Linked DNA regions of Homo sapiens: region 2 is linked to region 1. Evidence: fine-mapped expression QTL. Tissue or cell type: lymphoblastoid cells. Region 1 holds a variant in brackets; the other region holds the start of a gene. All regions are shown on one strand. Distances are between the middles of the regions.

The links. PIP is the estimated chance that this variant, and not a neighbour inherited with it, causes the effect.
Region 2: it holds the start of TRIP4, and the variant in region 1 is fine-mapped to the expression of TRIP4 in lymphoblastoid cells (GTEx, PIP above 0.99).

What each region holds. Positions count from the first base shown.
Region 1 is chr15:64,732,258-64,740,359 of GRCh38, reverse strand. It overlaps RBPMS2 (RNA binding protein, mRNA processing factor 2), which reads left to right. Exons shown (of 8, transcript NM_194272.3): 8 at 1-469. Among named protein-coding and RNA genes, the nearest start is that of MIR1272, 26 kb to the left of the region's middle. RefSeq lists enhancers at 3,223-4,202, 7,123-7,771, 7,772-8,102. The variant A/C (reference allele first, on the strand shown) is at 4,700.
Region 2 is chr15:64,384,700-64,392,798 of GRCh38, reverse strand. TRIP4 (thyroid hormone receptor interactor 4) reads right to left here and starts at 4,963. Exons shown (of 13, transcript NM_016213.5): 1 at 4,835-4,963. The coding sequence starts at 4,935. It also overlaps a transcript of PCLAF not described here. RefSeq lists enhancers at 4,247-4,747, 4,677-5,166, 4,748-5,248.

The sequences.
Region 1 (8,102 bases):
CTCTCTGCCCGTTCTGTTCACCTCTCCACAGCGCACCCCGCCCGCCGCTGCTCCTCATTCTTTCCAAACCTCGAAACCAACCAAAACGTGAGAAGTATTTTTGTACCCTGTGTAACAAAATATTTATGCATCATAAAGGATTTTTCATGTGCGTACCATTAATTATTAAAGCGACCTCGTTCGCCCTGTCAGATAAGTTTAATGTTTAGTTTGAGGCATGAAGAAGAAAAGGGTTTCCATTCTTCAGCAGTACGCCTTTGTGTCTGGCATTTGTTTAAGAAAATGAAATGAAGGAAACACTGTGCAATGTTTTTTGTTTTGAGCATATCAGTGCTTTACTGTCAGCCGCAGCTGTGACCGTCTGGCCATTTCAGACTTGGGAGATGAGGCGGCTGTTGTCATTGCTGATCCTGTGAGAATGTGAAACTGGATAATATATGAAATGCAAAATAAAACAAAACCAAAATGACTGCTCTCGGCCTTTGCTTCCCCCTTCCGTGGACGCAGACTGCCATTGGGAAGGCAGAGCCAGAGAGATGTGGAGTCGGGGGAAGGAAGTGAAGTGGGCCTGGCCCGCTGGCAGCTGGCTTGTGACTGTAAAGGTGGTGGGGGAGGACCTTGGAGCTCACTTAGCCTCTCCTGCCTCCCTGGTTTGTAAGCTGGGGAAACAAAGTCCAGGGTAAGTGACTTGCCTAAGGGCCTGGCAGTTGTGGCTTTACTTCCTCAGTTTCCAGGCTGTCAGGGTAGGGAGAGACTCCCTACACCAAGAGCAGGCCCCCAGGTGGGACCTTCCTGGGGGAAGGCGGTGATATACTCGGCTTAACCATTTACGGCCTGTGGTCTTTTTGAGTCTCGCTCTGGTAAAAGAGGACTGAGGTTTGGGCTGTTGGGCTCTGCCAGGTGGTGTCTGTCCTTGGCGTGCCTCTTGTGAGGCTGTGCTGGAGGGAAGGCTAGGACCTGGAATCTTGCCCAGAAGGGGTTAACCTCATCCACCCTGTAGTCTATGGGCTGCAACTCTGATTCCTGGAGCGGGAGCAAATGGGTGTGAGGCTCAGGGAAGCTGTGCAGTGCCAAGAGCCCAGGCTGGCCTGGGCCAGGTGTCAGGATGCCCGTCATGACCCTCAGTCTTACCTTTTGTGACTTGGGGTCTCGGGTTCCTTGTCTGTGAAGAGGTTGCTTGAAATCCTTTCAGACTCTTACTGGAGGGCTGGTGTGCTGAACTCAGGGTTTAACTGTTTGTTTTTTCATCCACTCCTGGGAGAGCTGCTCTGCACCGCACCGCACCTCAGACCCAAAGCCGTGCCTGGAAAGGGAGGACAGCAGAGGCCCCGGAACCCCCCTCCCAATAGGTGTTGCTCCAGCCTTGCTCTAAGCAAAACTAAAGTGGCTGTGGCTGGCTCTGGTCACTTCCTCACTTGCACCTCAGGTCACCGCTCCCCGCCTTACCCCGTCTCCTGAATCCCAGTCCTGCACAGGTCGGCTTGGGTCTAAGATGTCAGTGCTGGTGAATGCGTCAGCTGGCGACCCAGGTGCTCTGAGGGAGGAGGAGGAGGAGCCTGGCCAGGACCAGGCCCTGCAGGTAACCCTGGGTGTCTGTGGGCGAGTTACCTGGACCTCAGAGGGTGGCTGTGTTCGTGCCCAGAGGAGTCCGGGGTTACTCGTCTCCCGCGCTGTGCCCCTTGCCTCGCTGCAGTATCGGACCAGCTGGCAAGGCCGCCCAGCCTTCAGCCCCTGCCTGTGCTGGTGGGAAAGCTGCTCTGTGTCCTATGGCCCCCACCCAGGGCCAAGCCGAGGGCTGACCTACTTCATCTGTGTCAAGAACCAGTGGGTCTTCCTGAGGTCGTGAATTATTTAGCGAAGGTGCCTGGGCCTTTCTGAGAGGGGCTAAGAAAGCTGCTCTATAATTTAAAGCCCCTGCGCCTGCGGCTTCCCTGGGGGGCCTCCTTCACGCTTTAGCGAGCAGGGCCCAGGCCTGGGTCTGAGTGGAGGAGGAGCCGGGGAAGGAGGAGCCCTGCAGCCATTCCAGAGGGCACTCTCAGCTGGACTGGGGGCTTTTCTCAGTGTAGGGCCTCTGCAGAAAGGCCTTAGTGAGCAGTCATGTTTAGACTGAACTTGGGTTAAGGAGCCTTCAGTAGATCAGGGCTTCCTGGCTGGGGTCAGAAGCACCTGTGTCCTGATTCCCTGTCCTGCTCTCTTTCCAGAAAGCAGCTCGTTATCCCCAGAGGTGTTGAGTCCTGATCACAGTTGAAAGTGTTCCTTCCCTTCTGAAAGGGAGTTAGGCATCTGGGAACCACCAGCATTCTTTCCCCCACTTCTCCCACCCACAGATGAGTCTCACTGTCGCCCAGGCTGGAGTGCAGTGGCCTGATTTCGGCTCACTGCAACCTCTGCCTCCTGGGTTCAAGCCATGCTCCTGCCTCAGCCTTCCAAGTAGCTGGGATTACAGGCATGCACCAGCACACTGGGCTAATTTTTGTATTTTTAGTAGAGATGGGGTTTCACCATGTTGGCTAGGCTGGTCTTGAACTCCTGGCCTCACGATCCGCCTGCCTTGGCCTCCCAAAGTGCTGGGATTACAGGCGTGAGCCACCATGCCCAGCCTCCACCAGGGTTCTTTTGGTGTGAGGTCCCTTCCCAGCAGCGATGAAATCCCCTCGTTGGCAGGAGAGGCTGTCTTTCCATGTAATCCCCTCCCTGCAAGCACACAAGTGAGGCCAGTACTAAACAGATGCTTGTGAGCCACTGGGAAGCCCCTGATGCCCCCCTGCCCTGGCCAGAGCCAGCTCTTCTCGCAACAGAGATGGTGCTTGTCACCCTGACTGAACCATCGTTGGGTGCTGCTGCCTAGCCAGCATTTTTCTTTTTCTTTTTTTTTTTTTTGGAGACAGGGTCTCTCTGTTACCCACGCTGGAGTACGGTGGTGTGATCATGGTTCACTGCAACCTCTGCCTTCTGGGCTCAGTTAAACCTCCCACCTTAGCCTCCAGAGTAGTAGCTGGGACCACAGGCACACACCACCATGCCTGGTTAATTTTTGTATTTTTTGTAGAGACCCGGGGGTTTCATCATGTTGGCCAGGCTGGTCTCGAACTCCTGGGCTCAAGTGATCCTCTTGCCTCGGCCTCCCAAAGTGTTGGGATTACAGGCATGAGCCACCATGCCCAGCCCTGGCCAGCGTTTTTAAGGGATGTGACTTATCTTGGAGCTTTCCCAGGCAGGTTCCTAGGTTCCAGGCTGTGTGGCCTGACATGATGCGTCCCTGGGGATCAGTACAAGGTAAGAGTGCAGGCCGCATGGGGTCCAGAGTTCTGGGACAGGGGTGGGAGCGGGGGTTGGGGGGTGATCCAGGCCTCCCTCCTGCCCACCGTTCCGCCCCACCCTGCCCTGCCCACACGTGCCCCGCAGAGCTCCATTTCCTGAGGTCTGGAATAAAGCCTTTGGATCTTGAGTTCTTTGTCAGAGGGCAAATATCCCTGAGAAACCAGGCTAAGTCCGTCAGAGGAGGGAAGTAGGGCAAGTGCCGGAAGGGGACTGAGAAAGGGAAAGGTGGAAAATGGGAGGATAAAGCCTCCTGCAAAGGTATCAGGAGGAGGGAGCAGAGCCGCCCCACTCAAGCTGCAGGCCTGCCCTGCCTCACATCCTCTGTGCCAGCCTCCACCCAGGTGGCCCTGCAGGAGTGCAGGCCCCACCCCAACACCTTCTCTCAGGCAGAAGAGGGGCTCCAGGAGCAAGGGGAGCAAGGCTGAATGGGATCACTGCCCTGGCAACTTTCCAGGGCAGCCAGGAGAGGGGCATGTGCTCCTGGTCCATTCCATACCCCGTCCCCCACCTCCTTGACCATCATCCCCTAGTTCCCTGGCCTCTGGTTGGGGTGAGGGAGCGGGAGCCTCTGCAAGAGTTTGGAGGGAGGTCAGGTGCCCTTGGCCATTATCTTCATGACCTTCCAGCCATCCCCTTAAATCTGTTCTTTTGAGAGGCCCTTCAAATGACCCCAGGAAACCAGGGTCAGACATTGGCATTGAGGATTGAGTCCACCCAGCTCTCCCATTCACAGATGGAGAAGGTGAAGCACAGAGGTGAGTAGTTTGCCCTAAAGCAAGCCCTTTTTTGTTATGGAGACAGTGACCAGTGCATGCTCCACTGGTGTCTCTGTCTTCCAGTCAGTCCAGCACCCCACAGGGCAGGCAGGCAGCAGACACCTCACCCCACAGGCTTGGAAGCCTCTCCCTGCAGTGCTAGAGCCATGGTTACAGCTCAGGGCTGCTGGCTGCAGACCTCTTCTTGGCATGCCATACTTTCTTGTCTTCTGTCTTGATCTAAATATGACCCCATCTTTCCCTGGGACACTGGGTCTTACTCCCTGATTAAAGGACAAAGAGAAGCCCTCAGTGACCCATCTAGCCTCAGCCTAGCATTGTGTAGTCTCTGGCCTTTAACCCAGTGATTAGGGTTGTTGGACGTGCAGGATTCATCTGGCTATCAGCTTATGCAAGAACAAAGATGGTGTATCTCCATTTCTGCCTGTAGTAGAGAATATGCAGCAGCTTAGTAGGAGGAGCCTAAGAGACAGGAATGGCTGTCTCATCCCAGAAAAGCCTGTGCCTTCCCTCGGAGTGTGTGTTTCTGTTTTTTTTTTTTGAGACAGAGTCTTGCTCTGTCGCCCAGGCTGGAGTGCGGTGGCGCGATCTCTGCTCACTGC[A/C]AGCTCCGCCTTCCAGGTTCACATCATTCTCCTGCCTCAGCCTCCCAAGTAGCTGGGACTACAGGTGCCTGCCACCAAGCCCAGCTAATTTTTTGTGTTTTTTAGTAGAGATGGGGTTTCACCATGTTAGCCAGGATGGTCTCCATCTCCTGACCTCATGATCCGCCCGCCTTGGCCCCCCAAAGTGCTGGGATTACAGGCGTGAGCCACCACGCCCGGCCAAGGAGTGTGTGTTTGTGACTCTGTTTCCTTCCCTCACAAGGTTATGAGCTTTAATGATGACACAATAACGTGCCTAACACATAGTAGGTACTCCCTAAATGTTTTCTATGCTTATCTTTTTTTTTTCCTTTTTTTTTTTTTTTTTTGAGATGGAGTCTCGCTCTGTCGCCCAGGCTGGAGTACAGTGGTGCAATCTTGGCTCACTGCAACCTCCACCTCCCAGGTTCAAGCGATTCTCCCTGCCTCAGCTTCCCAAGTAGCTGGGATTACAGGCGCCCACCACCACACCTGGCTACTTTTTATATTTTTAGTAGAGATGGGGTTCGCCATGTTGGTCAGGCTGGTCTCGAACTCCTGGACTCAAGTGATCTGCCTGCGTCAGCCTCCCAAAGTGCTGGGATTACAAGCGTGAACCACCACGCTTGGCCTGCAGTTATGTTAAAAAGATAATATTTCCTTCATCCTTAAGAAGCAGTGAAATTGAGTCGATTCCAATTGACGTACTCCTTGACTGTTTTTTCAATGGATCAGTAGTCATTGAAAGATTTTTAACCCCATGTTCTACCTGGGAGGAAGGTGAAAGAAGGACAGGGTGGGGCCCAGGAATCTAGGAGAACACACACAAAACCCTGGAGCTAGTAGTTTTTGGCACTGGATCTAACTGTAGCTTTTTTTTTTTTTTTTTTTTTTTGAGACAATCTCACTGTGTTCCCCAGGCTGGAGTGCAGGGCATCATCTCAGCTCACTGCAACCTCCACCTCAGCTGGGTGTGGTGGCACATGTCTGTAGTCCCAGCTACTTGGGAGGCGGAGGTAGGAGAATCGCTTGAAACTGGGAGGCAGAGGTTGCAGTGAGCTTGAGTAGCTAGGATTATAGGTGTGTGCCACCATGCCTGGCTGATTTTTGTATTTTCAGTAGAGACAGGGTTTCGCCATCTTGGCTGGGCTAGTCTTGAACTCCTGACCTCAGATCCACCTGCCTCAGCCTCCCAAAGTGCTGGGATTATAGGTGGACTTCTAACCTTTTTATCAAGCCATTTAGGGCTTCAAAGTTCTGACAGTAGTTGTATTCATACACTGCTTCAGAGTTTACAATACATACGTTTGCTATCGCCCATGATTGCCATAAAAAGCCTGCTGACATACATAAGAAAGGTGTTGGCCAGGCGTGGTGGCTCACGCCTGTAATACCAGCCCTTTGGGAGGCCAAGGCGGGCGGATTGCTGGAGGTCAGGAGTTCGAGACCAGCCTGGCCAACATGGTGAAACCCTGTCTATACTAAAAATACAAAAATTAGCCAGGTGTGGTAGCATGTACCTGTAATCCCAGATACTAGGGAGGCTGAGGCAGGAGAATCACTTGAACCTGGGAGGCGGAGGTTGCAGTGAGCTGAGACCATGCCACTGCACTCCAGCCTGGGCAACAGAGCAAGACTCAGTCTCAAAGAAAAAAAAAAAAGGAAAGTTTTACTTATCTTTTTTTTTCAGACAGAATCTCACCCTGCTGCCCAGGCTGGAGTGCAGTGACCCGATCTCAGCCCACTGTAACCTCAGCCTCCCAAGTAGCTGGGTCTACAGGCGTGCACCACCACACCTGGCTAGTTTTTGTATATTTTGTGGAGCTGGGGTTTCTCCATATTGCCCAAGCTGGTCTTGAACTCCTGAGCTCAAGCAATCTGTCCTTCTCAACCTACCAAAATGCTGGGATTATAGGTGTGAGCCACCATGCCCATCAATCATCTAATTTTACAGCTATGGAAACCAGAGTTAGAAAGGCTTCACCATGGCTAGGTGTGGTGGCTCACCCCTGTAATCCCAGCACTTAGGGAGGCCGAGGTGGACGGATCACCTGAGGTCAGAGTTCAAGACCAGCCTGGCCAACATGGTGAAACCCCATCTCTACTAAAAATACAAAAATTAGCCAGGTGCGGTGGCACATGTCTGTAGTCCCAGCTACTTGGGAGGCGGAGGCAGGACAATCGCTTGAAACTGGGAGGCAGAGGTTGCAGTGAGCCGAGATCATGCCACTGCACTCCATCCTGGGTGAGAGTGAGACTCCATCTCAAAAATAAATAGATAAATAATAAAAACCATCACATAGTAGCCTGGTTAAGAAATAGGCCGAAAACGCCTGGGCGTGGTGGCTCACGCCTGTAATCCTAGCACTTTGGGAGGCTGAGGTGGGTGGATCATGAGGTCAGAAGTTTGACACCAGCCTGGCCAAGATGGTGAAACCCCGTCTCTACTAAAAAATACAAAAACTAGCCAGGCGTGGTGGTGGGCACCTGTAATTCCAGCTACTCGGGAGGCTGAGGCAGGAGAATCGCTTGAACCCAGGAGGTGGAGTTTGCAGTGAGCCGAGATCATGCCACTGCACTCTAGCCTGGGCAACAGAGCAAGACTCCATCTCACAAGAAAAAAAAATGAAAAAGAAATAGGCTGAAAACAAAAATAAAAACCATCAAACAGAAAAACCCTGCAACCACTTGAATATGTGAGGGCAAATTGAGGTGAATTGAGTTTGTTCTCAATCACTTAACATTACCAAGTGGAATAAGAGAGAAGGAAAGAGCTAAGTCCATAGGCTGCTACAAGGTAGTCCTGCCCTGATCCTCGAAGCTGTCCTGGGAAGGCTGTTTGCGAAGGATCATTTCCATCCCATGGACAGGAAGTTCAAGTTCAGAAAGGTGCCAAGGTCATGTTTGATCATGATGAGCTGAGCCAGAGCCCTGAGCTCTGGTCTGCTGCCCTCAAGGGGGAAGGAGCACGCTGACTGACCTTTGCATCCTCTCTTGTCCAGTCATTCTTTCCAGCAAACATTTTTTGTGCCCCTGCCCTTTGCTGAGCCTGTGTTTGGTGCTGAGATGGAGGATAAGGCACAGTTTCTGTTCTCAGGTGATGCACAGCCTGGAGTGTGGGAGTCTGGGCTGTGGAGCTACTCAAGCAGGGAAAGCTGGGGGTTATTGGTTCTAAACTTCCGCTCCTCTCTTTCCCCGGAGGCTGGGCTGCTGCCCACCTTACCCACAGGTCCAGAGTACTGCTCTGGGTCCCATGGTATCGTGGTTCTGTGCTTGGCCTCGCAGAACTGCATGGGTGGTGTAAGAGCTGTGCACAGAGGAACATGCCTCATCTCCCACCTCAGGGTGACTGCAGCTTCCAGAGCAGGATACCCTCAGGCTCTGT
Region 2 (8,099 bases), 350 kb after region 1:
TAGAAGAAAAATTAAAATTAGCCAGGCATGGAGGCATGTTCCTGTAGTCCTAGCTACTTGGGAGGCTGAGGTGGAAGGATCCTTTGAGTCTCAGAGGTGAAGGCTGCAGAGCCATGATTGCACCACTACATTCCAGCCTGAGCAACAGAATGAGACTCTGTCTCAAACAAGCAAAAACGGTGGGGCATGATGGCTCCCAGCACTTTGGGAGGCTGAGGCGGGTGGATCACCTGAGGTCAGGAGTTAGAGACCAGCTTGGCCAACATGGTGAAACCGTCTCTACTAAAAATACACACACACATACACACACCCCCCAAAAACAGGCATCTTCTAATTACTATGGATTAGAAAAGACAATGGTTTTTCAGGACTTACACATTTTAATCATCTTGATCCCCAAACTTACCAGTCCCCACCAAAAGATTAACTGCTATCAAAGACTTGCAAAACTGTAAGGAATCCCAAGGGATCATTTAACCCTGGAGGGTTTTTTTGTTTTTTCAGACAGAGTCTCATTTAGTCTCCCAGGCTGGAGTGCAGTGGTGCGATCTCAGCTCACTGCAAACTCCATCTCCCAGGTTCAAGCGATTCTCCTACCTCAGCCTCCTGAGTAGCTGGGATTACAGGCGTGCACAACCACACCCGGCTAATTTTTGTTTTGTTTTGTTTTGTTTTTGCTTTTTTTTAGTAGAGACGGGGTTTCACTATGTTGGCCAGGCTGGTCTCGAAGTCCTGACCTCAAGTGATTTGCCCGCCTCAGCCTTCCAAAGTGCTGGAATTACAGGCTGAGCCGCTGCACCTGGCTTTTTTTTTTTTTTTTTTTTTTTTGAGACAGAGTCTCACTCTGTCACCCAGGCTGGAGTGCAGTGGTGCTATCTTGGCTCACTGCAACCTCTGGCTCCTAGGTTCAAGAAATTCTCCTGCCTCAGCCTCCTGAGTAGCTGGGATTGCAGGCGTGCACCACTGCGCCCGGCTAATTTTTTGAATTTTTAGTAGAGACAAGGTTTTGCCATGTTGGGCAGGCTGGTCTTGAACTCCTGACCTCAAGTGATCAACCCACCTCAGCCTCCCAAAGTGCTGGGATTACAGGTTGAGCCACTGCACCTGGCCAACCCTGGAGTATTTTTCAAACAACCAGGGAAGAGAGTTTCAGAACCATTTGAATAAATGTCATTTTAACTACTTAACAAGGTATAATAAAGAACAACATTCATCCAAATATGTTATATACCAAATCTTATCAAAATAATATGAACTCATCCAGATTGTGGACCAAAGTTTATTTTGTTAACTCTGTGGATAGCTATTTATGTCTTATAAATGTATCACTAATTAGAAAGTTAAGGCCGGGTGCAGTGGCTCACACCTGTAATCCCAGCACTTTGGGAGGCTGAGGCGGGCAGACCACGAGGTCAGGAGACCGAGACCATCCTGGCCAACCTGGTGGAATCCCATCTCCACTAAAAATACAAAAATTAGCTGGGCATGGTGTCACGCGCCTGTAGTCCAAGCTACTGGGGAGGCTGAGGCAGGAGAATTGCTTGAACCTGGGAGGTGGAGGTTGCAGTGAGCCGAGATCCTGCCACTGCACTCCAGCCTGGGCGACAGAGTGAGACTCCGTCTCAAAAAAGAAAAAAAAAAAAGTTAATAGCTCTGTGCTATTTCAAAAATTCAGTCCACTCATATAAAATTGTTCAAGTTAGTACATTACTGTAGTACATACACCTGGGTAATTCTCAATTAAATGCCAGGCAAGGCACAGCAAATGCTTTCATCATGGCATAATAGCCTGTTGTGGAATACTAGTGAATACCTAACAAATGCTTCAAATAGTATCTTAGCGTAATACATGCCGACGGGCACTGACCTCCTTCCCAGGCGGAATATAATTTTTTTTTTTTTTTGAGACGGAGTCTCGCTCTGTCGCCCAGGCTGGAGTGCAGTGGTGAGATATTGGCTCACTGCAACCTCTGCCTCCTGGGTTCAAGCGATTCTCCTGCCTCAGCCTCCCGAGTAGCTGGGATTACAGGTGCCCGTCACCATACCTGGCTAATTTTTTTTTGTATTTTTAGTAGAGACGGGGTTTCACCATGTTGGCCAGGCTGGTCTCGAACTCCTGACCTCAGGTGGTCCACCTGCCTTGGCCTCCTAAAGTGCTAGGATTACAGGCGTGAGCCACCACGCCTGGCCTGAGAACGCATTTTCTTGATACTGTGTAATCCAAACAAAATACAACTGGATTCTAGACTGAGAAGACTACATCTATCATTCTTACCCTATTTCAAATTGTTAATTTATCAAAAATAGCCTCAATCTTTCTTTTTTCCTTTTTTTTTTTGAGACGAGGTCTCACTCTGTCACCCAGGATGGAGTGCAGTGGTGCGGTATCAGCTCACTGCAACCTCTGCCCCGCGGTTCAAGGGATTCTCCTGCCTCAGCCTTCCGAGTAACTGAGATGACCTGCACGCTCCACCACACCCGACTAAGTTTTGTATTTTTAGTAGAGTGGGGGTTTCGCCATGTTGGCCAGGCTGGTCTGAAATTCCTGACCTCAAATGATCCATCTGCCTCGGCCTCCCAAAGTGCTTAGATTACACACATGAACCACTGCGCCTGGCCACCTCAATCTTTTTTTTTTAATACTGTATTTAATATAATACACATATTTAATATATTTAATATAATATTTGATATATTTAATATTTAATATATTTAATATAATATTTGATATATTTAATATTTAATATATTTGATATTTAATATATTACACATATTTACAATAAATATGTGAAAATTGGGCCAGGCGTGGTGGCTCATGCCTGTAATCCCAGCACTTTGGGAGGCTGAGGCGGTTGGATCATCTGAGGTCAGGAGTTCGAGACCACCCTGGTCAACATGGTGAAACCCCATCTCTAGTAAGAATACAAAAATTAGCCAGGCATGGTGGTGCGCGCCTGTAATCCCAGCTGCTCGGGCTGAGGAAAGAGAATCGCTTGAACGTGGGAGGCGGAGGTTGCAGCGAGCTGAGATCGCACCACTGCACTCCAGCCTGGGCAACAGAATCTGTCTCAAAAAAAAAAAAAAAAAAAAGTGAAAATTTTGAACTTATATTCGTAAAAAACACTTTTCTGTTTTATATATTGCAAAGTTTCATTATTTCATTTGATAGCATTCCACTGCTTTAAAAAATGTTTGAAAACTACTAAATACTTAATCTGACTGCGTTCAAGCAAGGGTAAAGCCAAACCATAAGATTTCGCTGTTTTGTTTTGTTGTCTATTCTAGTGTTAAAAAAAATCCTTTATCTTGTTGTTTACTTTTTTTATTTCTGTAGAGACAGGGTCTCACTATGTTGCCCAGGGTGGTCTCCAACTCCCAGTCTCAAGCAATCCTCCCACCTCTACCTCCCAAAGTGCTGGGAATAAGGGCTTGAGCCATCTCCTAGGGCCTCAAAAAAATCCATTAAAATAACCTACTTGAACTGTCTCCTTGCCAAAAGTCTATTTTCTCCGAAACTCAGAAACTCATCTTACTTCCTACAAAAGCCCTAGAACAGCAATTTAGGTTTCAACATCAGTGACCAAGGAATCAAATGAAGGAACACTTTCAGTTCTTCGATCAAGTCCCATTTTTGTAGTTTTCTCCCCTGCCTGAACACTTTGGACCGCCACCTCTGTCTATTCCTTAGTTCTCGGGTGAAAGTTATCCTTTCCAATAAACCTTCCGAGTTTTTCAAATCTTAATGAGAATCCTTTATTTTGTGCTCCAACAAGCCCCTTCATTTCCCCAACCTCAGCACTCATCAACGAAGGGGAACCCAACTGTCTTGTCTTTGTTACCCCAGCACCTGGCGTGTAACAGCAGCGCAACAAATGTTCTTCAATCAGTTGAAAGTAGATATTAAGTCATGTACACCATCTCCATTTCATAGGAGTCATAAAGCATGATAAGCTCTACTAATGATTAATCTTATAAATGAAGAAACCAGGGTACAGAGAGAAAAATTAAGTTGTCCTGGGTTCTAAAACAGGTAAACGACAACAGAATATAGAACCTGAGACTCCAGAGTCAGAAGCTATTTGTACTCTACCACGCTGCTTCCACTTAAATTCTAGGTCCTATTGACACAGCTGACCCTGTTGGCTCTACTGACACAACTCAGATTGGGCCGACTAAAATGTTCAGAGTATATCTGGGTGCGGTGGCTCATGCCTGTAATCCCAGCACTTTGGGAGGTCGAGGCGGGCGGATCACTTGAGATCAGGAGCTGGAGACTAGCCTGGCCAACATGGTGAAACACTGACTCTACTAAAAATTTTTAAAAATTAGCCGGGTGTGGTGGTGCGTGCCTGTAATCCCAGCTACTTGGGAGGCTCAGGCAGGTGAATCACCTGAACCCGGAAGGCGGAGGTTGCAGTGAGCCAAGATCGCGCCACCGCACGCCAGCCTGGGCGACAGAGACTCCGTCTCAATAATAACAACAATAATAATAAATAAATAAAAGAGTAAGGGGTTCAAAGTTAGGAAATACAGTTTGACCTGCCCCTTCTCTCTAGAAAGGAAACTGGCTCCTGGGACAGCCTTGCATTTCTAATTATTACAGATTGGGCGTCTTCCCAGGAAAAAAGCCCGACCGGCAGACTGTGGAGCCGGACACCCTATTCCAGAAACTAAACTACAAAGGTGGAGGCCAAAATTCGACGCCTACAGACTACAGACTGCAGCCCCTTTATCACATTTCTCTCTTAACTTTTCAGTCCTCCCCGCTTCCCGGTTCGCTCAGGCAGTGCACATCCCAGAGCTCCTTCCCCGCTTGGACCCGAACTGTTCTCACTGAATGATCTCCTCGCTGACATCCAGGCCGAAAGTCTTCCGCAACTGCTGGGTGCACCAGTGCACCAGCGGCTCCCCGGACACCGCCCCAGCCACCGCCATCTTCCCCAGCCGGAACCAGCTGAGCTGCAAAAGCCCCACGTCCTGCACCGGACTAGTTCCCTTCGCAACACCAACCTCTCTCACGCGGGTTCCGCCAGCTTGCACCGCCCCGCAAGGTCGCACCGCCTCCAGTGCAGATCCCGCCCATCTGTGCGCCTCCTGCTTCTTCCTGCTTTGTTGTCTACTTCCTTGTGCCCTCCGGAGTCGAGCTCTGTCAGTGCATGATTCTTGCCAATCGCTAAACGTAGGACTCGAGGAAGGCCATTGGCAATTCTGCTAAGAAGACAGTGCAAGTGCCTATAAAAACGACAGTTTAGGGGGAAAACAAACCAATACCCGGAAAGCTGAGAGGCCAGCTTTTTAATCGTCATGGTTTTATGTAAAATAAAACAGCACGTGGAAGGTATTGTAAGCGCTGTAAGTTTTTGCTCTGGTGGTGGTTTTAATTTTTTAATTAATTAATTAATTTATTTATTTATTTTGAGACGGAGTCTCGCACTGTCGCCCAGGCTTGAGTGCAGTGGCATGATCTCGGCTCACTGCAAGCTCCGCCTCCCGGGTTCATGCCATTCTCCTGCCTCAGCCTCCCAAGTAGCTGGGACTACAGGCACCCGCCACCACGCCCGGCTAATTTTTTTTGTATTTTTAGTAGCGACGCGGTTTCACGTGTTAACCGGGATGGAGTGTTTATTTTTAATACCCCCTGTAGTCGACTACTAGATTCACACCGCTAAAACTTCTATTTTATTTTTTGAGCCATGTATTTTCCAGGAGAGCCAAGACAACTCAGCAAGCTCGAGGGTAAAAAACAGTAAAACAGGAGTTGGAATTTGGCTTTGAGGACTTTCCACATGAGTTCTCAACCAAAAATGACAGTATTTAAGGGCTGTCTGCAATTCCCTACCCCGCTAAGACAATGGGCTGGGGAAAATTTAGCCAAACTTTTCTGGAGATCATAATGTCTTCCCATTCATTTCTGGCTTTTTGTTGCATTTGCAGGTTAAAAGTTCTTCATTTCTACTAGCCTGTTTAGACTAAGTGGTCACATTAAATTGGCAGCTGTTTTACCTTTTTGCTAGTGTTTTCATTGGCATAAATATTATAATTAAAATCATGAGTGTATTGGCCGGGCGCAGTGTCTCATGCCTGTAATCCCAGCGCTTTGGGAGGCCGAGGCGGGAGGATCACCCGAGCGCACACGGAGACACACACACAAACACACACACACACACACACACACACACTGGGCGTGGTGGCTCATGCCTGTAATGCCAGCACTTTGGGAATCAGAGGCAAGAGGATCACTTGAGCCCAGGAGTTCCGGACCAGTCTGGGCAGCATAAGGAGAATCCTCATCTCTACAAAAATGAAAAAAATTAGCCTGGCATGGTGGCACATGCCTGTAGTCTCAGCTACTTGAAAGGCTGAGGTGGGAGGATCACTTGGGCCTGGAAGGTCAAGCTTGAAGTGAGCCCTGATTGCACTACTGCACTCCAGCCTGGGCGACAGAGCAAGGCCTTTTTACAAAAACAAAACAAAACCTCATAAGTGTATTGATTTACATTCCATTTAGATTGTCGTAGATATCATTAATTTGGAAAGCAGATGATTTTCCAGGGTTTTTTTTTTTAAGAAAAAGTCAAAATACTCTGTGAATGTTTATTAATTGTGGGTACAAGTTTTGTTTCTTTGTAAAACTCCACTACATTTAATAATAATTGTAAGGTATCAAAGTCATTTACCTGTTTATTTATTCAGTCCCTGTGTTAGGGTTCTCCAGAGACAGAACCAATAGGATAGATAACAGATAGATATAGATACAGATCTATGAGGAGATTTATTAGGGAATTGGCTCAGGAAATTATGGAGACTGAAAAGACCCATGACAGGCCATCTGCAAGCAGGAGACCCTGGAATGCTGGTAGCTGGCTCAGTCCAAGTTGTGAAATCTTCAAGTCTCAAGGTGGAGGGCCTGGAGTTCTGATGTCTGGGAGCAGAAGTCTGAGAAGAGTGTCTCAGCTCCAGAAGGAAGAAATATTTTTTCTCACCTTTTTTGTTCTGGGTCCTTGGTTAATTGGATGGTGCCCGCTCACATTGAGAGCAGATCTGCCCCACTCAGTCCACTGACTCACATGCCAGTCTCCTTTGGAAATACCCTCAAAGGCACCCAGAAGCAATGCTTTACAAGTTATCTAGGTATTTCTTTTTCTTTTTCTTTTTTTTTTCTTTTTCTTTTTTTGAGATGGAGTTTCCTCTTGTTGCCCAGGCTGGAGTGCAATAGTGCAATCTTGGCTCACCACAACCTCCGCCTCCCGGGTTCAAGCGATTTTCCTGCCTTAGCTTCCCGAGTAGCTGGGATTACAGGCATGTGCCACCATGCGCGGCTAATTTTGTATTTGTAGTAGAGATGGGGTTTCTCCATGTTGGTCAGGCTGGTCTCAAACTCCCGACTTTAGGTGATCCTCCCGCCTCGGCCTCCCAAAGTGCTGGGATTACAAGCCCTCTAGGTATTTCTTAATCTGGTCAAGTTGACACCTAAAATTAACCATAACAGTCTCCATAACTAAAACATTAAGTGCTTGAAGGCAGAGACTATGACTTAAGTTTTTTCATATAATATAATTTAGTATGTCATACATGTTATGATAAGTACGTCCTCCAGAATAACATAGGTGGCTGGGTACCGTAGCCCACACCGGTAATCTCAGCATTTTGGGAGGCTGAGGTGGGAGGATTGGTTGAACTCGGAAATTCGAGACCAGTCTGGGCAATATCAGGAGACCCTGTCTCTACAAAAAAAACCTAAAAATTAGCTAGGTGTGGTGGCAAGCTCCTGTGTTCCCAGCTACTTGGAAGAGGATCACCTGAGCTCAGGAGGCGAGGCTGCAGTAAACTGTGATCACACCACTGCACTCTAGCCTGCGTGACAGAGTGAGACCCTGTCTCAAAAAAAGAAAAAGGCATTCTTTTCTCATAAGTCATATGTTAATTATGATGTAATTATAATGCAATTTATTATTACTGTCATTTGTTAAATTACATTTCTGCCTGAGCAATGCAAGCACACCCATTTAGCAAGACTTAAAGATCTCTTTTTTCTTTTCTTTTCTTTTTTTTTTTTTTTTAGACATTCTTGCTCCATCACCCAGGCTGGAGTGCAATGG